Linked DNA regions of Homo sapiens: all the other regions are reported to be linked to region 4. The links are microRNA targets in miRTarBase. Many come from high-throughput screens and were not tested one by one. Region 4 holds a microRNA gene; each other region holds the end of a gene's coding sequence.

Region 1 (3,215 bases), not on the chromosome of region 4:
CTTCATGGTTTCCCATCTCAGCCACAGCCTCCCTCCATAGCCGGGCAGTTCCCCAGGAGTCCTAGGTGTGTGTCCCTGCTCCGCTCAGTGTCCCTCAGCTCTTGCCGGGCCTCTGACTCTCCCTCCTCTCTTCCAGACGCCTACCCTGTATGCATCTCTTTCACCAACTGTGCGTGGACCAGTGGCTCGCCATGAGCAAGAAATGCCCCATCTGCCGAGTGGACATTGAGACACAACTGGGAGCCGACAGCTGAGGGAGGAATTAGCCAGTGGACACCCCATTTCCTTCACCAGGTCCCCCCACGGCCATAGCCCTTGCAGCCAAACTTTGCCTTCTGAGCCATTTGACGTAGAGGAAAAGCCTGCAAGCACATTTTGTGGAAAGAGGAGTTGGTGGTATCGGTGTCGAGGGAGAGGAGGGGGTTGGGGAGGACCCACCTCTCCAGAATGGCGACTGTCCCCATCCGCCTGGCTGAGCAGGAGAGAGGGAGCTGGCGGTGCCCAGCGCAAGGGCGGGAAGGAGGGGCCCAGGCTGCGGAGAACCCAGGTGGGATCCTGAAGGCACTAGCTGACAGACGGGCCCCTCAATCCTGTCCTCTGAAGGATTGTATATATACCTCTCGACCACGTAGGAACCATGTAGGGGTCTCTAGCTATTTCTGTGGATGGCAGCCGGAGCATGTTAGCTTAAGAAAAATGTTGTGTGTGGTGCTCTAGTCATCTTGTGGTGGACATGTCGCTATTACCGAATTCGCACCAAATATTTCTCATTGAGTTTCTTGTTTTGGTGCCTGACCGAACCAACGACAGCCCCAATCTTCCCGTCTTTATGAGAGAAAAGGAAAAAGGAATCAAAGGTGGAAGAAAAAAAAAGCCAAATTCTGTTTACGGTGAAAAAGGATTTTGTTTTTCACCCAATTTGGGAGGCGGGAGGGGGGGGTTCTCGTTTTATTTTTGTTTTTGTTTTTACCTTGGCTTTTGTTTTTCTCATGTTTACAGTGCACGGAGTGTGGAAGGGGGTCTAGGAGAGGGAGAGCTGGAAAAGGAGCTGATGGGGTCTTATCCTGGCCTCTGAGGGTTCAGCGGAGGTGAGGAAGGCAGCAGAGCTCCAGCAGGTGAAGGGAGAGTTCATCTAGGCGGGGCTCCCCAGGCCCAGGGCTCAACTTCATGGCCCCAGCTATATCCCCCCAGTTCCACACTAAACCAGGGAGGGCTCGGCCCTCAGCTACTGGTACCCAATGTGTTCCTGGGAGCCGAGAGACCCATGGTCACTCCAACTCCTTCCTTTAGGCTGTGCTCTTGCCTGTCACAAAGAGGCAACGTAGCCACTGCCTCCCTATGCAAAAAATTAACCAGATGATGCAGATAAGACAGCATAGGTGATGGCTGCTTGGTCTTGGCCACAGTGCTCTCAGCCAGCACTAAGGGCTGAGGTCAATACCGCAGACCTTGGGGAGGAAGCTGAGCATCCCCCGGGATGTCTCCAGTCCTGACACAGTCCCTCAGAGATGGCCCTGGCTCTGAGGTCACATCAGCTAGGTTTGGGAGGCCCCTCAGCTTGGTTTGGGAGTGCCCGTGTTCCTGGTCTCTGGCTGCTTCTCTGACTCTTTGATAACCTTGGGCAAGTCCCTTTCTTTCTCTGTGCCTCAGTTTCCTTCTCCTTTGAGGGGGGAGAGAGAACAGTGCAGCCCCATTTCCGGTCCTGCTACCTCACCTAGATGTTGTGAGGATTCATATTCTCTGTCCAGCGTGTTCTATGCTCTCTTCTGAGAACCTTGTGGGGTGTCGGGATGGGGGTGCTGGGAGACACAGACCTGATACAGTATGTCTTTCTGCACCACCTCACAATTTTCCTGAACCCCAAAGGGAGCAGAGAGATAAGAGGACAGAAGAATGGAGATGGGAAAATCCACCAAATTCCAACCCAAACCCAACTTTCTTTCTCCCTATGTGGAAGACACCAGATTAGCTGGAATTCTGCCACCTTCCTTTGTGCCCCACCCCCCACTGTTCCCTCATTTGCACTGCTCTGTAAGCCTCCCCCTCACCTCCATTCATAACCCAGTCTCAATGCCCTCGTATCAATAAGACCGGGGTAAGGGGGACAGGATACTTGTCACATATTTGAAGAAATTCCATACAGTGAAGGAAATTTGAGTCTGTATTGCTGCTACAAGGGTAAAACCAGGACCAATGGGTAAAAGTAACAGGCGGGCAGATTTTGGCTTGAGGAAGAGCTTCTAGCACGACTGGTTCATGCGGGAATAGCTGCTCTGGCCACCTGCAGGCAGAAAGTGGGGGAAGTGGCTCCTGGCAGGAGATTTCTCCCAGCACTAATATCCTGGTGTTCTATAAAATCTTTATTGAGTGCCTACCGGTGCAGGCGCTGGGAGAGACAATAGCTTTGAGGAGCTCACAATCTAGCTGAGGAGACAAGACACATCCAATGCTGCAAAAATGGTGAATAACCTGATTCAGGGTTAGCAGCAATGAGTATCACAGCGTCCAACTCAGTAGCTCCAGTGTATGAAAATGTCTCCAGGGCTAAAGGCTGGAGATCTCACCAGTGGGGAAAGTACATCTGAGTCAGGATTTTGGGGGAAAGCTAGTTACTGATAGCCACAGGAAGTTGAGACTTCTGCCCCATTCTCTCCAATGGCTGGGTGAAAACCAAGAATTCATCGGAAGATGGCTTTGGCCTGGAGGTAGCTAGGGTGGTCTAGGAAGCTCACTCCTCTCTTAGTCTCAGTCTTTCATTCTTTCTGCTGAGACTGGCCTGAAAGGCTGGCAAGTGGGAGGGAGTCAGTGGGGAGGCCAGGATAGAACTAGAGCTGGTGTCCCAGGTTCCAGTCTGGGCTCTTCACTGACAAAGTGGGCAACACTAGAAACTTCCCTTTGTCTCTCTGGGCCTTAGTTTCCTCAGTTACAACCTAAGGAGGTTGGATTGGATGCTTGCTAATTTCCTTCTGACACTCACACTCCCTAACATCAACACATCTTCAAGGCGGCAGAGCTGTGCGCCCACCCAGCTATTGAAAAGGACTTTCTGTGGGCACACACTCTGTTTCAGACTGGGCTGGGGGCACACGTGCTGGGTGAGACAGTGGGCCCTCGTCCCCTCCCCCCTCCCAATTCTCTGCCCCAGGCTAATATTAGGGACTGGGGAGGGGACCACCAGAGGGGAGAGGGAAGCTGCTTACTTTGGGGGTAGACCC
Region 2 (3,265 bases), not on the chromosome of region 4:
GTTTGGGACCATGTCTTGGGTCTCTCTCAGATGGCCTTAGCCCCTGCTTGTGTCCCTCCACCTCCTGGGGCTGGTCACTGCCTCCCCTGGGTGTCTCTGTGAGCCTGCGTGCATTTGCCTGGGCCTGTTCTCTGTGGCTCCTCCCTCTCCAGCTCTCCCATCTGTGGGAGTGTCTCCTTGTCAGCATGGCTGGGTGGGGACCACCCACACCTCACTTCTCAGCCTGTTTTTACCTAGGTGAAACAGCAGCTTCTGCTGCGAGCATTGCCGTGCAGTGGGCGTGCAGGGGCTGGGGAGACGGGGGCGACCTGTGGGCTTTGGGAAAAAGCAGCTGTTCTTCCTTTGCTGTCCTCATTGGAGGTGATAGGTCCTGCGAGGCACCCTGGCTCCATTGGAGACAGCTGGGACCACCTTAATGGTCATCCCTCTAGGAGCCCTGGGGAGGCTGCTGTTATGAATGGGGAAGAGGAGGAGGAGGACACAGGGCTTAGTGGGAGCCAGGGAGGGTGGTGCTTGCCTCCCGGAGAACTAGAAGAATGGACTACCTGATGCCCACCTGTGGGGCTGGGGCAGGGTCGCTGACCTCTGCTGCTGCTGCTGCTTTGCTGTGTGATCTCAGATAAGTCCCTCTCCCTCTCTGGCCTTCTTTGATTCCTCTCCCACCTAAAGGAAGGTTCATCTACACTCTTTTTTCATCTAACAAGCCTAGAGCATGGTGTCCATGGAGACAGAGGCTGAGGTCTGTATCGGTTACTATGGGGGGCCTCAGAGCCTGGCGTGCCGTAGGTGTGCTGTGGAGACATACACTCCTTGGTTGGAGAATTTTTAATAGTAACAGTCATGCCCAAAAGGCTCCCACTATGGGACAGGCCTTGAAATTCTGACCACTTTACACCATGGAAATGCATTTACTCTTCACCCATGAGGGAGGTGCTGTGATTTATAATTCATAGATGGGGAAACTGAGGCACAGAGCCGTTAACTTCTTGCCCACGGTCCAAGAGGTCACAGCTGGGATTTGAACCCCAGCGGTTCTGGCCCCGTGTTATTGACCACTCCATGAGGCTGCCTAAAACTTTATTAGCCACCTACTGTGTACAGACACTGGGCCACAGCAATAAGCACAGAACAGGAGTAGGGGCAGGGGAGGAGTCTGCAAGCTTCTGGGAGGAGGGGATCTTGGGAGTGATCCCAACAGCTGAGCTCCCTGAATCCCTGTCCCAGCAGGTGCATCCCGGCCCCACGCCCCAGGCACCCCTGCAGGCCGAGTCCGCCCGGAACTCAAGACCAAGCAGCAGATCCTGAAGCAGCGGCGCCGGGCCCAGAAGCTGCACTTCCTGCAGCGTGGTGGCCTCAAGCAGCTCTCTGCCCGCAACCGCCGCCGCGTCCAGGAGCTGCAGCAGGGCGCCTTCGGCCGGGGTGCCCGCTCCAAGAAGGGCAAGATGCGGAAGAGGATGTGAGGACCAGGACCCAGCCCCGTGGCTCCTTGATTGGCCTTAGGGTGGGCATCAGCAGACGTTCCCGTGCACCACTGTGTGCCTGGCCCTGTGCTGGGCACTGGGGGCACTCCCTGCAGGAGCCATCATCTGTGAAAAGGAGCACTGTATGGCCACAGAAGGGCAGCAGCTGCGTCAGCCTAAGACAGAGACATTTGAACAGGGCCTTGAAGGGTGTGCAGGAGTTCGCCAGCAAAGCCAGGCAGGCCAAGACTTGAGTTGGCAACTCAGCTGCTGCTGCTTCCATGTGTTCTGGGTTCAGAGGTCATGGCTGCACCGGTCAGAGCCCTGAGTGCCTCAGGGTTTGGCAATGGAATTTTTAATGTAATAAATCTTTATTGAGCACTGCTGGTGGCCAGGAGTGCGGTCTACTTGGGGAACTGGAATGGAGAGACCCAGGTACTAAAATCCCAGCTAACGTGGCAGAGGAGTTGCGGGTCTCCTGAGGGTGAGTTCTGCTGCCTTGTCCATTTAGCGATGAGGAAAGTGAAGCTCAGAGCACAAACCAGGTGCCAGAGGCGGGAGTTGGTCCCCCTTCCTCCCACTGGACATGGTTGCAGCTGGGAGTGGGCTGGGGGAGGGGAACAGGATGCCCAGCCCAGGGGGCAAGGACACAGCTGCTCCCCTCTGGCTATGAAGAGGTTAACGCGGCCCCTCCACACCTGGAGGTCAGAACCTGGCCTGTCCTCTGTCTTCTTGCCACCCACCCCCTGTTTGAGGTTCTGAGAAGGTCAAGGGCAGCCCCAGCAGCTGGATTCTCAGGCTGGGCCCCTCACCTGGCAGAGTCCATAGTGGAGGGGGCCTTGGTGATCTCTCATCTAGCATGGACCCTGTTCTGAGACCTGACAAAGAGTTTTTTTTCATGCCCCAACCACCCTGGCAGGGAGGGCCTGGTCTGATCTCATTTTAGAGGCAGTTGCCCCACACATAGCCCCTTGACCTTCCCATCACCTCCTCATCAGGGCCTGCATTTATGGAGTGCTTGCTATGTGCCCCTCATGGCAGGCCCACAGCACTCTGAACAGGCACAGCCCTCCCATCTTCCCAATGAGGAAACGGATTCAGGAAGAGCCACTCAGTCCACACCCCATTGGAAATGTGGGCCCTCCTATCTCAGGGTCTCTCAGGGGTTCCCTCTCCCGCTGCTCACCTGTGTCAGGGCTAGGAGGCAGGGGCTGCAGGCTCAGCCTGACCCAGGCCGGCCAGCATGGCAGAGAGGTCCTGCATGAACAGCTTCACCTGGGGGGGCCCAGCACGAAGTCACATCCCAGCCCCAGAGTCACTGTCCAGCCCCCACCCCTCAACACGCGGGGGAGGCCGAAAGGTAGGGCGGGGACTGGAGATCCCCTCATTAAAAGAACAGTGATGATGGTGGTTCCCAGAGGTGGTGACTGAGATCCTAAACCGTTCTGGGTTTTGAAAGCCTCAGGCCAACCTTCCCAACTGCTGCGTGAGCAGACACCTTCACAGCTTCCTCGCTGCTGTCACCTGCACTATCCAATTAGTATTTTCATTTACATCAATCAGCTTTATTTTCTTGTAACTGGATCAGTCATATTCATTGGTTTGTGACCTACTCTTATCTCCGTGGGTGGCTCTCCTTTTGTTTTAATTAACTTCTTTATGAATATGAACTTAATAAATACCATGGATCCATTGTAAAAACTAGAACTTGAGGGTGAACTTACAACCATCTGTGGGCTCCCCCTCATATTCATCACCGTATCAACAGCTGAGAAGGAAACTTTTTATCTCCACCAAAAATGGAA
Region 3 (3,265 bases), not on the chromosome of region 4:
CTCACGCCTATAATCCCAGCACTTTGGGAGGCCGAGGTGGGAGGATCACGAGGTCAGGAGATCAAGACCATCCTGGCTAACATGGTGAAACCCTGTCTCTACTAAAAATACAAAAAATTAGCTGGGCATGGTGGTGGGCGTCTGTAGTCCCAGCTACTCGGGAGGCTGAGGCAGGAGAATGGCGTGAACTCGGGAGGCGGAGCTTGCAGTGAGCCGAGATCGCACCACTGCACTCCAGCCTGGGTGACAGAGCGAGACTCCGTCTCAAAAAAAAAAGAAAAAGAAAAAGAAAAAAAGCAACCAAAAAAACAATGGCTAGCCATTTACTTATGATCCAGATTGGACTCTAGTGGGCCAGTCCTATGTGGCCACTGGCAGCCAGTAAGGATTCCCTGGCCTATGTCTGCTGGAAGGGCCCTTGGAGAGCCTGGCTGAGGGGGCCTTCATTCTGGCCAGCTCTGGGCTGTGTGGCGTTGGGTGCCTGGCTCTCTGAGCCTCTCGCACCTCCCATCCCCACCCACGGTGTGCAGAAGGCAGAGGGCTAATGTCTCTCTTGCTGAGTCGTTGTGCAAATTAACAAAAATGAGTCTGGCACCAAAATGGCCCCCACACTTGGAAAACAGGCCAAGAGGCATCCACCGACCTGCTGACCCCTCTTTCCCCGCAGGCCCAACAGCGCCCTGGAATCCTGCTCCTTCGCCCGCCACAGTCTGCTGCAGACGCTGTACAAGGTCTAGACTCAAAGCCTCTCCCATCCCTTGGCCTGGACCAGTGAGCTGGGGAGGGACTCGGATGAACTGAGGCGCAGCCTACGCCATTGCCTTGGACAGGACTCTGGCCACAGGCAGGGCGGGTCTGTGTCCCATGTGTCCTGTCAGTCCCCTGAGTATGTGTGTGGGTGTGGCGCATGTGCAGGTCTGTGCCTCCTGTCGGGATTTGGGTTTTAACGTCTTCTGCTGGCCCAGCCCTGCTCTGTTGTGGGGAGTTGGCCCCCAGGGGAAAGGGCTGTGAGCTGCTCCGCCATTAAACTCACCTCCACCTGAGGGCGCTCTGCTGATCTCCGCCTGGGCCCTGATGGCCGTCCCCACCCACCTGCCTTCCGGCCCGGCTCCCTGGCGGAGCCAGAACCCAGGGAGTTGCCCGCGTGCTGTCCTTCCCCTCTGTGTTGTGATTGGGTTGTTTCCTGCCCTGCCTGGGGCTGCTTCTCGTCACCAAGCCCTGGTCCTGCGGCAGCTGTCACCCCTACCATCCATACCACTGTGCTGACCGCTCAGCCTGAAGAGCAGAGAATGCCATGGGTGGGACTGTGGGGGTCGGATCGTGGGGTTGTTGGCAGAGGGCAACCCTGGGCCCCACACCGTGTGGACAGGCAGACACCAGATTGTCCAGGAGCAGGAGCTGCTGGGACTGCGCTGGCCCCGGACCTAGTGGGCCTTCTCCTGGCTGCTGAGATGTCGTCTGTGACTGGCCTGGCTGGAGGGGGAGTGTTGACAACCCAAAGCTGTTCTCCAGTCTGGGGAGGGAGAGGCAGGGTCCCCAATGTCCGAGCTGCATCTGGACGCTGCTCTTAAAGGACCTCCTGGGGCAGGGGAGCGGTAGGGTCTGGACTGGGCAGATGCTGTATGACCTCCCTGAGCACCCGTGACTGCCCCATGCTTTCCCCTTTGTGCTCTGTGTGTGTCTGGGCTGTGCCCGGGGGCTTCACAAATAAAGTCGTGTGGCAGCTTCAGAGACTCAGAAACTCTCACTGAAAGCGGGATAGTCTCGGGGGCCGTTGTACGTGGAGTCCCACCTCGGCAGAGCATGCGGCCCCGCAGCAGTCTGTGGGGCAGTCAGCCCTGCAGAAGGGCCCGGCCTCGGCCTCAGGCCACTACCTGGGAAGTGGCAGTCCTGAGTGGGGGCCCATTTTCCTGCCTGGCCACACCTCACCCAGCACCCTGCCTTTGGGCTGCAGCTCGCTTGGCTTCTGCGTTGCTCCTTCACTATGGAAGCCACCTCCCTTGGGATCCTTTGCTCCACTGCCACATATGTGAGGACAGCCCAGCCAACCTTCCTTACCTCCTACCCTACACCATGTATGTGCTTTGGGAGCCCATGTCCCCCACAAACGGCCTCCAAGAAGTCCCTCCAAGGTTTCTTAGAGGGCAATATTTTCTCATTGGCAGTCGGCCACGTAGGTGACCAGGTGGCAGAGGATACTGCTGGCCCTGTCCCCTGTCTTCTGTGTGAGTTGATACGGTAGGGGGTGGGTGTGGGGCTGGCATTAAGTTCTGATGCCAGCTACAACGTGGATGAACTTTGAAAACATGTTAAATGAAATAAGCCAGACACAAAAGGACAAATATGATTCCATTTAGATGAGGCATCTAGAATAAGCAAATTCAGAGACAAGAAGGTAGAGGTTGCCAGGGCTAGGGGAAGGGTGGAATAGGGAGTGAGGCTGCAAACAGATTCTCTGGGATGATGAAGATGTTCTGGAAATGGAGAGTGGTGATGGTTGCATAACATTGTGAATGTACTTAATGCACTGAATTGTACACATAAAAATGGTTAAAATGATAGATTTCATGTATTAATATATTTTACCTCAGTTAATGTTTTAAAAATTAAGCAAAACTATAGAGCTTCACCCGGGTGTGGTGGCTCACGCCTGTAGTAATCCTAGCACTTTGGGAGGACGAGGCGGGCAGATCACTTGAGCCCAGGAATTCAAGACTGGCCTGGCCAACATGGCAAAACCCTGTCTCTACTAAAAATACAAAAATGAGCTGGGTGTGGTGATGCATGCCTGTAGTCTCAGCTACTTGGGAACCTGAGGTGGGAGGATCACCTGAGCCCAAGAAGTGGATGCTGCAGCAAGCCGTGATCGTGCCACTGCACTCCAGCATGACTGACAGCGAGACCCTGTCTCAAAAAAGAGAGAGAGAGCTTGTAGGAGATAGTGTAAGTGAGTATCTTCAAGGCCTTAGGAGTGAGGAAAAGATGAATAAATTAAGCTGTATTTAACCTCCTTTGCCATTATCGTGGGATGTTCACACAATGGAAATGATGTAGCAGTGAGAACAGGTTTCTGTTTATCAAAATACTCATTAAGGAGTACAAAGGCAACTTACAGACAGGGAGAAAATAATTGCCTAAACTCTCTCTGTATATATATATGGGTGGGGGGGATAACTTTAATTTTTTTCAAACAGGGTCTCATGTTGCCCAGCTTCTATCTCGGCTCACTGCAGCCTCTACCCCCCGGGCTCAGGTGATCCTCCCA
Region 4 (3,265 bases):
AGCCCAGGAGACAGCTGTGTGTGGAGTCACGGGGAACCGAGATGGGGGCGGCCCTGAGCTCTGCAGGCCCGGGAACTGGCTGGGATTTGGGGTCGCACAGCCTGCCTGGCACGTCAGCACTGTCTCCTCGTGGGGTCGCTGGCCGAGGCTACGTCGCAGAGGGTCCAGCTGGGGTCCACGGGGCTCTCGCTGGCTTCCCGCCCTCTCCCCCACTGTGTGCCTCAGCCAGTGCTTTGCAGGGCAGCCCTGGGGTCGCAGGCCCAGCCAGGGGCCCCATCTGCCTCGGAGCCGGGGTGCAGGGCCCCACACATGAGTGGGACCGGGACTCAGGCTCCAGGCTCTGAATTTTTTTTTTTTTTTTGAGACAGGTCTCTGTCACTCAGGCTGGAGTACAGTGACGTGCCCTCAGCTCACTGCAGCCTTGACCTCCCAGGCTAAAGCGATCCTTCTGCCTCAGCCCCTCAAGTAGCTTGGGACCACAGGCCGGCGCCACCACGCTTTGCTACTTCTTGTATTTTTTTTTGTAGAGACGGGGTTTCGCCATGTTGTCCAGGCTGGTCTTGAACTCCTGGGCGCAAGCGATCCACCCACTTCAGCCTCCCAAAGTGCCGGGATTCCAGGCGTGAGCCACCGCGCCAGGGCTGGGGTCTGGTTTTGGGTGCTCCCCAAGCTGATTTGCATTTTGGATTTTGGTTGTCTCTGGCTGCCTGCTTTTGCTCCGGTCCAGCAGACAGACAGAACGGACGGGGTGGTGGCGGTGGGGCAATGTCTCAGAGGGAGGGGCCGAGCAGGTGGGAGCTCCAAGGGCAACGGGGGTTCAAAGGCATCTCGGGAGGGCGGCAATTAGTAACCGGCTGCAGGTTTGGCTGTTGCCGAACGCGCCTTTCTGGGTTGATCATTGAACCAGCGGGAGTTGAGTGGATTAATAGCTAACTGGCTGCCTTGGAGGCCTGGGTGGGGCCATACCTCGGGGGAGGGGGCCCTGGCAGCCTGTGGAGGAGGAGGGGGAGGAGGAGGTGGGCACCAGAGCTCTGCCCCAGGGAGGATGGGCCATCTGAATCTCTGCAGCTTCCCTGGGGCTGCGAGGGGCCCACCCTGCCCCAGCCAGCAGCCTGCTGGCCCCATGTCCCCCTGCTGCTCAGAGCCCAGGCCCCAGTGTCAGCCCCTGAAGATGGGGTGTGCGGCCCCCCTGTGGAGACATTGTAGGGAGCTCTGAGCATGCAGGCGGCACCCAGGTGCAGGAGCTGCCGGAACCTCTTAAAAGAGACCCAAGGGTTTTTGTGACAGAATCTTCTGGAACCCTGTGTTCCTGAGTCCCTGTTTAGCCAGTCCTGTCCAAAATGATTCTTTCAAGCAGGGCGTGTCCCTCTGGGCACTGGAGTGAGGCAGGGGACGGGCACAGACCCCGGGGGCCCCAGGGCAGGGCCGTGGAGGCCAGGCTCTTGTGTCCAGAGCAGTGTGTCGGGGGTCCAGGCAGGAGCCGGACTGGACCTCAGGGAAGAGGCTGACCCGGCCCCTCTTGCGGCAGGCTTCACCGGCCAGAACTGTGAGGAAAATATCGACGATTGTCCAGGAAACAACTGCAAGAACGGGGGTGCCTGTGTGGACGGCGTGAACACCTACAACTGCCGCTGCCCGCCAGAGTGGACAGGCGCGTATACGGGTCGCCGCAGGGCGGGGTAGCCGGGGCGGGGCTGCTACCCACTTACTAAACTGCACTCACAGGCATAGCGGGGAGCAGCCGAGACCCTGTCCCAGGCCAGGCAGACTAGGGTTGGCCGAGAAGGACAACATGATGGGGGCCCCACTTCCCGTGGCCAGGGTCTGGTGCCCCTCACCTCGGGGGTCAGCACAGACAGGGCCCTGGTTGGTCTGTGTGGGCCGTTTGCAACCTGGCTCCAGGCAGCCCCTGTGCCCAGTGGGGTGTCCTGGCATTGAGGGCCTTCAGCACCCCACTCAGGCCACGCTTCCTGGGCCAGTCACAGGGATGCCTGGATGAACAGACAGGCCCTGTGTTCGGGAATTACCCTCTGGTGGGGTGACGGGCAAAGGTGCACCCCGACGCAGCAGTGTCCACAGAGCACAAAGAGGAGGCAAGACTCCATGGTGCTGGGCCTGCAGAGGAAGGAGTGATTTAGGCTGGCGGTGGGTGGAGGAGTCAGCCCAGGAAGGCTTCCTGGAGGGGGCGGCATTGCCACCCTGCGTCTTAGGGGACAGGGAGCTCAGGGAGTGGCAGCTGCCCGGGGCCGACAGCTCCTGTTCCCTGCAGGTCAGTACTGTACCGAGGATGTGGACGAGTGCCAGCTGATGCCAAATGCCTGCCAGAACGGCGGGACCTGCCACAACACCCACGGTGGCTACAACTGCGTGTGTGTCAACGGCTGGACTGGTGAGGACTGCAGCGAGAACATTGATGACTGTGCCAGCGCCGCCTGCTTCCACGGCGCCACCTGCCATGACCGTGTGGCCTCCTTCTACTGCGAGTGTCCCCATGGCCGCACAGGTGAGTGCCTTGAGGCCCAGGTGGGCGCAGGGGGCTCACATGGGCCAGGCCTGAGCTGTGTGACCTCACCCAGGGACTGTGGCCCTCCTGCACCCAGGATAACCTGAAAGGGCCTTTCTGGTCAGGGAGGCCGGTGGTCGCTGTGAGTCCCCCGGAACGTCCCAAGTGTCACGGGATGCCCGACGGGGTCACGGCGGGCAGCTCCTCCTGGGGTGTCAGTGGGGTTGGACCCCAGCCGTGGGTGGTGTGCCATGCCTGGCCCAGGGGCCGTGCCCACTGACCGCCGCTGCCTGCCCAGGTCTGCTGTGCCACCTCAACGACGCATGCATCAGCAACCCCTGTAACGAGGGCTCCAACTGCGACACCAACCCTGTCAATGGCAAGGCCATCTGCACCTGCCCCTCGGGGTACACGGGCCCGGCCTGCAGCCAGGACGTGGATGAGTGCTCGCTGGGTAGGTGCCAGCACAGGGGGTGCGGCCAGGTGGGGGTGGCAGCCTGGCCCCAGAACCGATGAGAAGTCGATTCTGGCTTCAGGGGGTGCCCAGTTAGATGGGGGATGGGACCCTGCCAGTCCGATGGGGGTGGTGTGCAGTGAGGTGTTGCAGGGGCCAGGGTGCCTGGAGCAGCCTCTCACCCGTGTGCCCTCGCCAGGTGCCAACCCCTGCGAGCATGCGGGCAAGTGCATCAACACGCTGGGCTCCTTCGAGTGCCAGTGTCTGCAGGGCTACACGGGCCCCCGATGCGAGATCGACGTCAACGA
Region 5 (3,265 bases), not on the chromosome of region 4:
CCTCTGTTGCTATTAAAGGGAGTGACTTGGCAGTTGTTCTCAAGTCTCCACTGGAGCACTACTGACTCTGGGTAGCTGCCTCCTCTGTAGTTCCATCAGCATAAGAAGTCTTCTAACAGAATGCTTATCAAGGTTTAAAGACAGTTACCTCAGCTAGGTGGACCTGTAATCCCAGGACTTTTAGGAGGCTGAGGCAGAAGGATCACTTGAGCCCACGAGTTCAAGACCAGCCTGGGCAACATAGTGAGAACCCTTCTCTACTAACAGTTAAAAAATTAGCCAGATGTAATGGTGCATGCCTGTATTCCCAGCTACTGGGGAGGTTGAGGAAGGAGAATTGCTTGAGCCCAGAAGTTGGAAGCTGCAGTAACCTACGATTGCACCACTGCACTCCAGCCTGGACAACAGAGCGAGACCGTGTCTCAAAAAAACAAAAACCAGTTAATTCTGTCTCCGCACAGTGGTTCCAGATGGGCCGCGTCTTGCAGGAGACTTTGAGATTTCTAGTAATTTCTTCCTAGGTGAGATTTTCTTTTTAGGGATTTAGTAACTTCACTGTCTGGTTGATATGTGCAATTAGTGTGGCATCCTGGTCTTTGGGTAGGGGCTGAGTTACCTAGGCTTCCCTTTTTTGACTGGTTTCCCTGGCTTGCTGTCTTCCAGGTGGCTTTGGCTGAAGCCTAATTCCACAGCTCCTTGTTTTTTGAGAGAGACTGAGAGAACCATAATCCTTGCCTGCTGAACCCAGCCTGGGCCTGGATGCTCTGTGAATACATTATCTTGCGATGTTGGGTTATTCCAGCCAAAGACATTTCAAGTGCCTGTAACTGATTTGTACATATTTATAAAAATCTATTCAGAAATTGGTCCAATAATGCACGTGCTTTGCCCTGGGTACAGCCAGAGCCCTTCAACCCCACCTTGGACTTGAGGACCTACCTGATGGGACGTTTCCACGTGTCTCTAGAGAAGGATTCCTGGATCTAGCTGGTCACGACGATGTTTTCACCAAGGTCACAGGAGCATTGCGTCGCTGATGGGGTTGAAGTTTGGTTTGGTTCTTGTTTCAGCCCAATATGTAGAGAACATTTGAAACAGTCTGCACCTTTGATACGGTATTGCATTTCCAAAGCCACCAATCCATTTTGTGGATTTTATGTGTTTGTGGCTTAATAATCATAGTAACAACAATAATACCTTTTTCTCCATTTTGCTTGCAGGAAACATACCTTAAGTTTTTTTTGTTTTGTTTTTGTTTTTTTGTTTTTTGTTTTCCTTTATGAAGAAAAAATAAAATAGTCACATTTTAATACTACTCTAGTTAGGACAGACTTGTGCTTTTATCCTGACTAAAAAGTTAAATATTTAAGTCACATACATGGTAAAGATCTAAGTTTCATTTTCCACATGGATGACCAGGAACCTGGTCTTGTTGGAGCTGGCATAGGAGGTTCTACTGTCTTGTCGTCCACTCTTGTCCCTCCCTTCTGTTATCAAAGTTAAAGCGCCTCTTCACTCAAAAGGGCTTCAAAATGTAAATGGCTCTAGAGTTAGAGTGACTGTTTGCTCTTCTGCTTTCTGGAATGCAGATGACAGTATGGAAAGAAAGAATAATGATTCTATCTAATAGGAAAGGATTTCTTCTTTCTTTTTTAAAGAGTGGGTGGATTTTCTCCCTTTTGTTTTGCTTTTATTTTCATGCTACTAACATATCTTCAGAAGGAAATGGCAACTAGTAGATCAGTAAAATTACGAAAACGATGCCTGCAAAATTTGAAGGAATGCAATTCTGATTTGCCATTTATCAGGGAAAACTGAAAGCATTTTTCTTATAACTTTTTTTCTTTTTCTTTTTTTTTGGAGGGGGGAGGCAGGGTCTTGCTCTGTCCCTCAGGCTGGAGCTTAGCTCAGTGCAGCCTCCAACTCCTGGGCTCAAGCAATCCTCCCACTTTAGCCTCCTGAGTAGCTGGGACTACAGGCGTGTGCCAGCGCGCCTGGCTAATTTTAAAATTTTTTTGTAGAGACAGAGTCTCCCTCTGTTGCCCAGGCTGGTCTGGAACTCCTAGCTTCAAATGATCCTCTCACCTCGGCCTCCCAAAATCCTGGGATTCCAGGCGTCAGCCACTGCTCTCGGCCCTCTTACACCATTTTGTTTGATTGTCTAGTCCCTGTTTCTTTTTCTTTCTAATCCTTATTCATTTAAGCAAAACCATACATTATCTTTTCCAGTCCTTTCTTGTATTCTTACTGTTTTTTTAAAATAACTTTTTGCCTTAATAGCTCATTGTCACTAATAACTTCTGTGTTCTCCCAGGCAGTGTTATAACAGAAGGGCAATGAAAACATTGGACATGACCATGAGTGCTTCCTTTCCTTAACTCTAGGTTTGTAGTCTGTTTTAAATTAGGATTAGTTCCTGCATTCTGAAATACATTGGCCTAGAACATTTTATCCCAGGCATTTTTGAATAGAAAACAGTTGCGTGCTTTTATTGAAGATTGTTAAAATAATCACCATAGTAACTTGATATGTTAGTATTTTTCTTTTTCCTTTTAGTATGTTTCAAGTGCAGTAATCGTACTTGTCTATCCAGTTTCTATGTATGATACGAGTTGCTTACACGATGCATGGCTAACTTGTTAATTTAGTTTTCTCCTTAGAGACTTTGAGACCCTTAAGAGACAAGATTGAGAAAGAGCCATGTGGCTTGGCTCTAGAAACGTCATTATCATTAGGACCATCAGATTTTAGATTAAGCTGCTATTGAATTAATAAAATCCCAATGAAGCAGAGTTATAGGGATAGATTTATAGCTGGCAGAGTGGTATCAAAGGAGAAAAACAGTGAAAAAGCCAATTTCACTGGTTCGTTCAATCCAGCTTGTTGCTAATATTAGTTACCCTTGTTTTAATGACAGAGAGTGGCTGGAATCTGTAGCTAGGGGAGGGGCAACACTGTTAGATGTGAGGAAAGGAAGTGCCAAAAATGCCTGGACAGATGGCTTGTCCCAAGGCCAGGACACACACTTTAAAATCCAACATTCACCTAAGCAAGTAATTCTTAAAGATCTTACAGAAACGCAGAGTCAATCAGGTTTATAAAGGAAGGCTGAGGGGAGAGAGGAGGCCTGGGGGCCTGGACGAAGAGGCCTAGGACCTGAAGAGACTCCAGCGAGTCTCGGGAAGCCCAGGGGACCTGTCACCATCTGGGCACTTCCCAGGCTCAATGCTCAGCCAGAGTTTGCTGGTGGACCTCAGGATTCGAA
Region 6 (3,265 bases), not on the chromosome of region 4:
TTTCTCACTATAGATCAGGGCTGGTCCTATCCGCCTCACAGGCTTGCCGTAAGGATTAAAGGAGCGTGTGTGTTTAGGCACTGGTCACCAGCCCGGTGCTTGGCACCATTGTCACGATGGGCCTGGACACTTTCTAGAGCCATGACTCCAGGGGAGTTCTGCATATGCGCCATCAATCGCTCACAGAATAGCGACCACAGTCCTGGATGGGGTAAATCTAAGTCCCCAGGCAAGGACAGCTAGGAGAGTGACTGGCCACCCTGACCCACCCACTGCCTGGGGAAGTGTCTACCATTGTAGGAAAAGGAGCTGGATACAGACGTCCTCAGGCCATAGATATGACTCAAGGAGAGAACAGTGAACAGAGAGGACTGTGGCTTCAGTACCCGCGGGTCATGTCAGAATAATCATCATCATCATAGCAAAAGAGAATGGCAGATTCTTTCATTTGCAGGAAAACTTTCTGCCTAGAGGAAGGCAGGGCAAGTCTGCTCCTACCCAGCTGACCCCCGGGAGGAAGGAATGAAGCAAGAGAGAAACTCCTTCAGTGAAGTCAGCAGACAGGACTCAAAGCTCTTCCAGCCAGGGATGGAGCCACACACATCCCAGTCTACTCAGCACCTAGCACAGAGTAGACACTCACAAAGTATCTGAAAGCGTCGCTGAAAGGCAAAGAGCAAATCAGAAAAAAACATGTGTTTTGTCTTTTGAAATGCAGTCAAATCTCACATAGCTTCACAAAAGTTGTTTAAACCAAAGTGGATCAAGAACTCAGGAAAACTGCCATGGGGCCTCCTCTCAAGGGAGGGGACCCTCAAGCGGTGGCGGCCCTTCCCCACCTCCCTTCTTCCCCTGGCTGCCATCTGCCCCCAACGCTCTGGGCACAGGGCCAAGTGGCAAGTGGGCCCTGCCCAAGCCTCTCTGGGAAATGGGATTTGCAGGCCGACTGGACGAAGGCACTAAAGATGCTACAGGTGATCAGAGGAAGCTCCTCACGCAGAAGCAGCCAGCACCCACGTGATAGGGGGTGGAGCTGGGAGGCGCGGCAGAAGAGGGCTGTTCAAGCAAAACTTTGGCACTGCAGGTAGACACTGAGCATCCCCCCAAAAAACTGGCTTTGTGGGTCCAAAAGTATCTCGCCTGATGAACACTGTGAACTGGAGATCTCTGGGGCAGGGCAGGGTGGGGAGGGGCGGGGCAGGGCAGGGCAGGGCTGCCTCGGTCGGGTAGAATGGGAAGGGGTTCTGCTCTGCTCTCTTACTCTGGGCTGGGAGCTAGAAATGCTGGGTCCTGATTTTGCTTCTGCAGTGATTTAGTCATGCCTCTCCAGACCTCAGTTTGACAGATGACCACATCTGCCCTGGGTTTCTTCAAGGGAGAAAACAGATTTGGCAGTGCGTGAAAAAAGAAAAAAACATTACAAATGCCGGAGAGGCACAGGAAGCAGCTCTGCCTGGCCCTTGGTTACCTGCCTCCCTATGGGACCGCTGCATGCTATGCTCAGAGCCCTCCAGGCTGGCCCTCGAGGCCACCTCAGCTCCCGTTGCTCCATAAGCTCTATTCCCCAGGGGGCAACAGCTTAGAAGAGGGAACAGGGCTCTGTGTCAACCACCAGGACCCTGGCATTCTCCTGTCATGGAGATGCAGCTGTTGAGTCCAGGGCAGCCTTTGGTATAGGCTGCTGTGGGCTGGAGGGATGGTGGGTGTGGGAGCAGCCACGAATGCCCCCTCACCCCCCTCACAATGAAGCCACTTGGCCACCACTTAGCCAGCTTCTATCTCTTCCCTGCCTGGTTTGTCTTTTACAGAGGGGAGGGCACAGGCACTGAAGTCAGGCAGGCCTGGACTCAAATCCTCTTCCCTCTTCCTCCTGGCTGGTGTGTCCTTGGGCACATGGAGCGTGAATTTCCTCATCTATAAAGGGAGGTTGTGAGGGTCAAAGCATGAATGCAAAGCGCCAAGTACAGTGTTTGGCACCCACGAGGCACTCAGCAAAGGGGTGCTCACAAGGGCACGACTTGTGAATGGGCCTCTTATTCAAACAAACTTTGAGATTCTTGCTTTAGGTAGGCAAAAATGAAATGCTCCAAGTTGGGGTGGGAACTCTCATTGAAAAGCCCTGGAGGGACCGGAGCCTGCAGCAGCAAAGCGCAGCATACGCGGGGCTGGAACCACCCTTCAGGGCTGACCACGGTCCCAAGATAGAAGGTGGGAGGCAGGGCGGCTGAGCGGATCTCCAGGCCCACTCCTGGGGGAGCCGCATCCAGTGGAACCTCAGAGGCCCACGGGCCTGAGGCTTTGGGGAAGGGGACACTTTCCCTGGAACTGGTAATGGAATGCATTTCTTCAGGATGAAGTTCCTTCTGGTAGCAGGCAATTTAGGAGGAGTGAATAAAGCCACTGGGCTTTTAGAAACATGAAGAAGTTGGAGCAAAAGTCATCATGGACTGGGTTGGCTGCCCCTTACTGTGCCATGTCCAAGCCATGAGAGACCCTTGCTGGAGTTTCTCCAGGCAATGGGATCCAGTCCTGGAGGTCTTGGAGAGTCTTGGTCCCACTGCTGGGTGGCAATGCCATTGGCCAGGAGGAGTTCTCTTAAGGCAGGGATGCTGACATGGACAGAAAGCAAAGGCTGTGGGTTCTGAGCCTCCAGTGATGCTGTGATAGGAGGGATCAGGCCCAGGGGCGCCCGAGGTGTCCGAAACTCACTCTCCACCCATGGGAGGCAAGAAGTCACAGTACCCCAGAGTCTGTCTGCCTTGGAAGCTGCGTGGAGAATGATAAATTAAGAGGCGTATTAAATACGTGGGTAAAGCCAGCAAGGACCAGCGGGCCCTCTAGGCAGAAAGGGAGTCGGCTACGGCTTCTTTCTGAGATAGTTGGAAGGAATCCACCCTTCCCAGGAAGGGGCTCCGCTCAGGACCTGGCAGAACCACCAGCCACTGCTGTTCTTCTCCCGGACTTCAAACACTGTCCCTTCCTGGAAGCTGCTGGTGTCTTTGTCTCCTTCAAAGTCGGCCACGGCCACATACAAAGAGTCCTTCAGGCCGTCGGCATTGGGGACAGAGGCTGCAGCTGCTTTCTCCCTGTTTTCTCCAATCTTGCCGGTCCCCCATGGCCCCAGGCTGCCTTTGCCTCGCGTGTCATCCTGGCCCCCCAAAGAGTTGGAGAGAAAAGGTTTGGCTTTTGGAGGGACGAGGAGAGCACGGCCTGGGGTGGGAGCTGCCCTGCTTTCGTGGCCTTCACACTGTGGACCTCTGACCTC
Region 7 (3,239 bases), not on the chromosome of region 4:
AGTTGAAAGGTGGGTGGGGGAGTGACTTGTCCAGAGAAGGGGCCCTGGGGTGTGAGCTCCCCGCTGGGTGTCTCACGTGGCCTTGGGCATCTGGTTGTGGGGGAGGAGGCACTTGCTCTCCTCTCCCCATGCTCGTTGCACCCTGTTCTGGCGAAGGGCTGCGCCATCCACAGCGGCGCTCAGGCCAGGACCAGGGGGTCCTTGGTTTCTTCCTCTCCCTCCCTCAACACATAGCCTGTTCCCAGGGTTCTAGCTTTGTCTCCCTGTTGCTACTGCCAGGGCTCTGGTCTGGCCACCATCATCTTCTCCCGACTCTGTCCACAGCCTCCTCCCTGTCTCCCCGTCTCCACGCCATTCTCTTCCACATGTAGCCAGAGGGACCTTTCTAAAACGCACATCTGGCTACTTCCCTCCACTCCACAAATCCTTCGGGACGCCCTGTGGCCTGCAGGACAAAGCCCCACCTCTGCGGGAGTGGCGTGTGAGGCTCTTCACCAACGGGCCTTGCCCGCCCTGTGTTCTCCTCCTGCCCGCCCCCACACATGCCCTGTGCTCCAGCCACACCCAGCGCCTTGCAGTCTAAGGAGAGCCCATGCCTTTGGACATGCTGTTCCTTCTGCCTGGAATTTCCTTGTCCGCCTGGTGAACTCCTCGTTCTGCAAGACTCCGCTCAAAACAGCACCTTCGAGAAGACTGCCCTGCCCCTTCCCTGCCTTGCCCCATGTCCCCCTCCCTTGGGTCCCCAGAGCCACGCACATCCAGCCCTGCTTCCCACACACGGGGCCGTGCGTGCCTTTCTTCACCACTGAGCTCCTTCAAGGGCAGGGACTGTCTTTATCTTTGCATCCCCCGCTGCACCCTGTGCCTGCCCACTGGGCACTCGGTGGATGGTGTGCGGGCGGATGGGTGAGTGAGCGGACAAAGGTGGGTCTGAGGCTGGCCCTGTGTGGTGTGAGGTTTGGTGGTCAGGACCTGGGCGGGTGGTCCTGAGTGCTGGCCCGTGTGCTTGAAAGGGTGTGGTGCTATTGGGTCCTACTGTGTTCCCCAGGTCCCGCAGCCCCCGGAAGCCAATAGACTCCCTCAGGGACTCTCGGTCCCTCAGCTACTCGCCTGTGGAGCGTCGCCGTCCCTCGCCCCAGCCCTCACCACGGGACCAGCAGAGGTAAGGCCAACTGCAGGTGTCAGCACCCAGCCTGTCTGGCCGCCACTGCTTTCTACAAAGAAGAAAGCTTTGCGGTTGTGGCTATGTGGTGCCTGAGGTGGTGCCACCCTGTGGCCTGATGTCTGTCCTGTGTTGCAGCAGCAGCAGTGAGCGGGGTTCCCGGAGAGGCCAGCGTGGGGACAGCCGCTCCCCCAGCCACAAGCGCAGGAGGGAGACACCTAGCCCTCGGCCCATGAGACACCGCTCCTCCAGGTGCGTGTCCTGGAAGGCTGATGCCCCCTTCCGGGAGCCAGTTGTGGTGGTGGGTGGCGGCCCCATTTTGGGAGTGGCCCAGAAACTGGCCTTGAGGGCTGGGGTGGGAACTCCCTGTTGACCCATATCTTCTCTTGCAGGTCTCCATAAATTGTCTTTGGGGGATTCCACCACACCCAATGCTCTGGAGCCACAAGGAGTGTCCCTTCTTCCCCAGCAGAGCCGTGGGAGGGTCCTTGTCTGCTCTCCTTTGAACCTTGGCAGCCCTTGGATGGAGGGCTCCCTTTCCCTCCCCTTTTTTTTTTCTTTGTTCCTGTGAAATGTTAATCTCCGTGAGTTCTTCCTGGTTCATGTGTTCTGGGGGGTTTGGGGTGGGAGGGAATGCAGATGGGAGTTGGGGGAGGGGAGGATACAGTTCAGGATACCCCAGCCTGGAGTCAGGGCCAGGGAGGCATGGCCCCACTTGTATCCAGAAGTTCCCAGGGGTGATTGTGATGGTGGTTGGGACTGGAGGTTGTATAAGGTGTTCTTGGAAGGAAGGGGCAGGAGTTGGAATTAGTTGGTCCCTACTGTCCCCCATGAGGTTGTGAACCCCTCCCCCCAACTTTTCATGTTTCTTAAAGGCATTTTGGTTTTTTAAAATCTGTACAGCAAGAGCAACTTTTTCTGTCAAATAAAAATGAGAAATGCAGGAACTGGGTCTGTAGACTGTTTATTAAAGGTGTGTTAAGGGGGCAGCCACTTCCCTCCGTGATTACAGCCCCCAGCGTGGGTGGACCTGTGTGGGTCCGTCTTGGGGTTCCCTCGTTGAACATGCTGTCAAACCAGGACACTGGCTCCAGCTTGTGTTTCTGCTCTTGGCCATCGTCTGGGAGTGGACATGCAGGCTATGGGGGTGGGGGGCACTTAGAAGGAGAAAGGCCTAAAACTGGAATCTCTTGTCCCTGAGGCTGGCTCTGGTCTTTGTGTCTCTCCCAGTCCTTCCCTTTCCTCCCCCTGGCGTGGTTGGTGTGGCTGGCTAGCTGCTAACAATGGCTTGGGTCTCAGGGCAACCCAGGTCCCCATGGTGCCTTTAAGCAGCAGGCTGGGCCAAGTTCTCAGCCAGGGTCTCAGGATCTGGGAGACAGGACAGCACAGGAACTGCCAAGCACAAGCCCCAAAAGGAGCCCACAGGGAGTGGGACCCATCCCAGGGAGGGGCGGGAAAAAGAGGCAGCAACCAGGCAGACTCCCAAATCTCTTTTATTGGGGGAAATGGGCCTCTTGGGGGTCCTCACTGCACGGCTTGTTCATTGGCACTGCTTCCCGAGTCCTGGGGCTTCATCACATCGGGCAGCTCTGGCGGGCTGGAAAACGGCTCGATGCACAGGGCCTCAAAGGTGTCATCTGTGGAGGAAGCAGCAGAGCTGCAGGGGGGTATTCCAGCTCTTGCCCCAGCTGGGGCCTTGGTGTTCACGTGTGATCATCTGCAGCTTTGGGGATCTCCATGCGAACGCCCCTCCACACGGCTGTAGTCTCCACAGCGCTGACCTCCCTGTTCCAGCTACCCCCGTGGCCCCACGGTAATGTCTCCTACCCCTGTGGGCCCAACCTGAAGGTCCCCAGCCCTTCCCACTGACCATGCTGGGGCCCCTTTCCTCATCTTCCATGTCCACTAGTGAGTCTGAGGGCTCACCATCTGCAGCCAGCATCACCCTTCACCCAGAATATATCTCCTTGTTCCCTTCACACACTTTGGGAGGCCGAGACGGGCAGATCATGAGGTCAGGAGGTCAAGACCATCCTGGCTAGCACGGTGAAACCCCATCTCTACTAAAAATACAAAA

What was found. Region 4 holds the annotated microRNA hsa-miR-4673 (UCCAGGCAGGAGCCGGACUGGA, at 1,469-1,490, shown strand). A microRNA usually pairs through its seed, bases 2 to 8, with sites in the 3' UTR of a target mRNA and lowers its output. Matches are read on the target gene's strand: a 7mer-m8 pairs with bases 2 to 8, a 7mer-A1 pairs with bases 2 to 7 and ends in A, and an 8mer does both.
Region 1: the mRNA of ARK2C is a reported target of hsa-miR-4673. Seed matches in the 3' UTR shown: 7mer-A1 at 2,698-2,704.
Region 2: miRTarBase lists CFAP73 as a target of hsa-miR-4673. Seed matches in the 3' UTR shown: 7mer-m8 at 1,248-1,254.
Region 3: the mRNA of RANGAP1 is a reported target of hsa-miR-4673. Seed matches in the 3' UTR shown: 7mer-A1 at 762-768, 7mer-m8 at 1,190-1,196 and 7mer-m8 at 1,912-1,918.
Region 5: the mRNA of TMEM248 is a reported target of hsa-miR-4673. Seed matches in the 3' UTR shown: 7mer-A1 at 754-760, 8mer at 2,987-2,994 and 7mer-A1 at 3,134-3,140.
Region 6: the mRNA of SH3PXD2B is a reported target of hsa-miR-4673. Seed matches in the 3' UTR shown: 8mer at 2,509-2,516, 7mer-A1 at 2,236-2,242, 7mer-A1 at 1,510-1,516 and 7mer-m8 at 226-232.
Region 7: miRTarBase lists ELOB as a target of hsa-miR-4673. Seed matches in the 3' UTR shown: 7mer-m8 at 2,633-2,639.

Annotation. Positions count from the first base shown.
Region 1 is chr18:46,456,383-46,459,597 of GRCh38, forward strand. It overlaps ARK2C (arkadia (RNF111) C-terminal like ring finger ubiquitin ligase 2C), which reads left to right. Exons shown (of 8, transcript NM_152470.3): 8 at 137-3,215. The coding sequence ends at 254. Among named protein-coding and RNA genes, the nearest start is that of ARK2C, 120 kb to the left of the region's middle. RefSeq lists an enhancer at 1,752-2,541.
Region 2 is chr12:113,157,072-113,160,336 of GRCh38, reverse strand. CFAP73 (cilia and flagella associated protein 73) reads right to left here. Exons shown (of 8, transcript NM_001144872.3): 7 at 2,647-2,735; 8 at 1,061-1,636. The coding sequence ends at 2,658. It overlaps DDX54 (DEAD-box helicase 54), which reads left to right. Exons shown (of 20, transcript NM_024072.4): 20 at 1,228-3,164. The coding sequence ends at 1,460. MIR7106 (microRNA 7106) reads left to right here and starts at 1,160; the gene lies at 1,160-1,224.
Region 3 is chr22:41,244,075-41,247,339 of GRCh38, reverse strand. RANGAP1 (Ran GTPase activating protein 1) reads left to right here. Exons shown (of 16, transcript NM_002883.4): 16 at 668-2,561. The coding sequence ends at 737. Among named protein-coding and RNA genes, the nearest start is that of CHADL, 4.8 kb to the right of the region's middle.
Region 4 is chr9:136,517,829-136,521,093 of GRCh38, reverse strand. MIR4673 (microRNA 4673) reads left to right here and starts at 1,468; the gene lies at 1,468-1,526. It overlaps NOTCH1 (notch receptor 1), which reads left to right. Exons shown (of 34, transcript NM_017617.5): 5 at 1,529-1,651; 6 at 2,270-2,503; 7 at 2,802-2,957; 8 at 3,157-3,265. The region is part of intron 1 of LOC124902310 (a long non-coding RNA gene); the gene reads right to left.
Region 5 is chr7:66,954,839-66,958,103 of GRCh38, forward strand. TMEM248 (transmembrane protein 248) reads left to right here. Exons shown (of 7, transcript NM_017994.5): 7 at 664-3,265. The coding sequence ends at 684. Among named protein-coding and RNA genes, the nearest start is that of TMEM248, 35 kb to the left of the region's middle.
Region 6 is chr5:172,335,512-172,338,776 of GRCh38, forward strand. It overlaps SH3PXD2B (SH3 and PX domains 2B), which reads right to left. Exons shown (of 13, transcript NM_001017995.3): 13 at 1-3,265. The coding sequence ends at 2,858. Among named protein-coding and RNA genes, the nearest start is that of UBTD2, 53 kb to the left of the region's middle. RefSeq lists an enhancer at 386-1,247.
Region 7 is chr16:2,769,304-2,772,542 of GRCh38, forward strand. It overlaps ELOB (elongin B), which reads right to left. Exons shown (of 4, transcript NM_007108.4): 4 at 2,111-2,799. The coding sequence ends at 2,687. SRRM2 (serine/arginine repetitive matrix 2) reads left to right here. Exons shown (of 15, transcript NM_016333.4): 13 at 1,049-1,162; 14 at 1,301-1,414; 15 at 1,555-2,109. The coding sequence ends at 1,564. Among named protein-coding and RNA genes, the nearest start is that of ELOB, 6.4 kb to the right of the region's middle. RefSeq lists enhancers at 1-411, 412-1,115, 1,116-1,818, 1,242-1,381.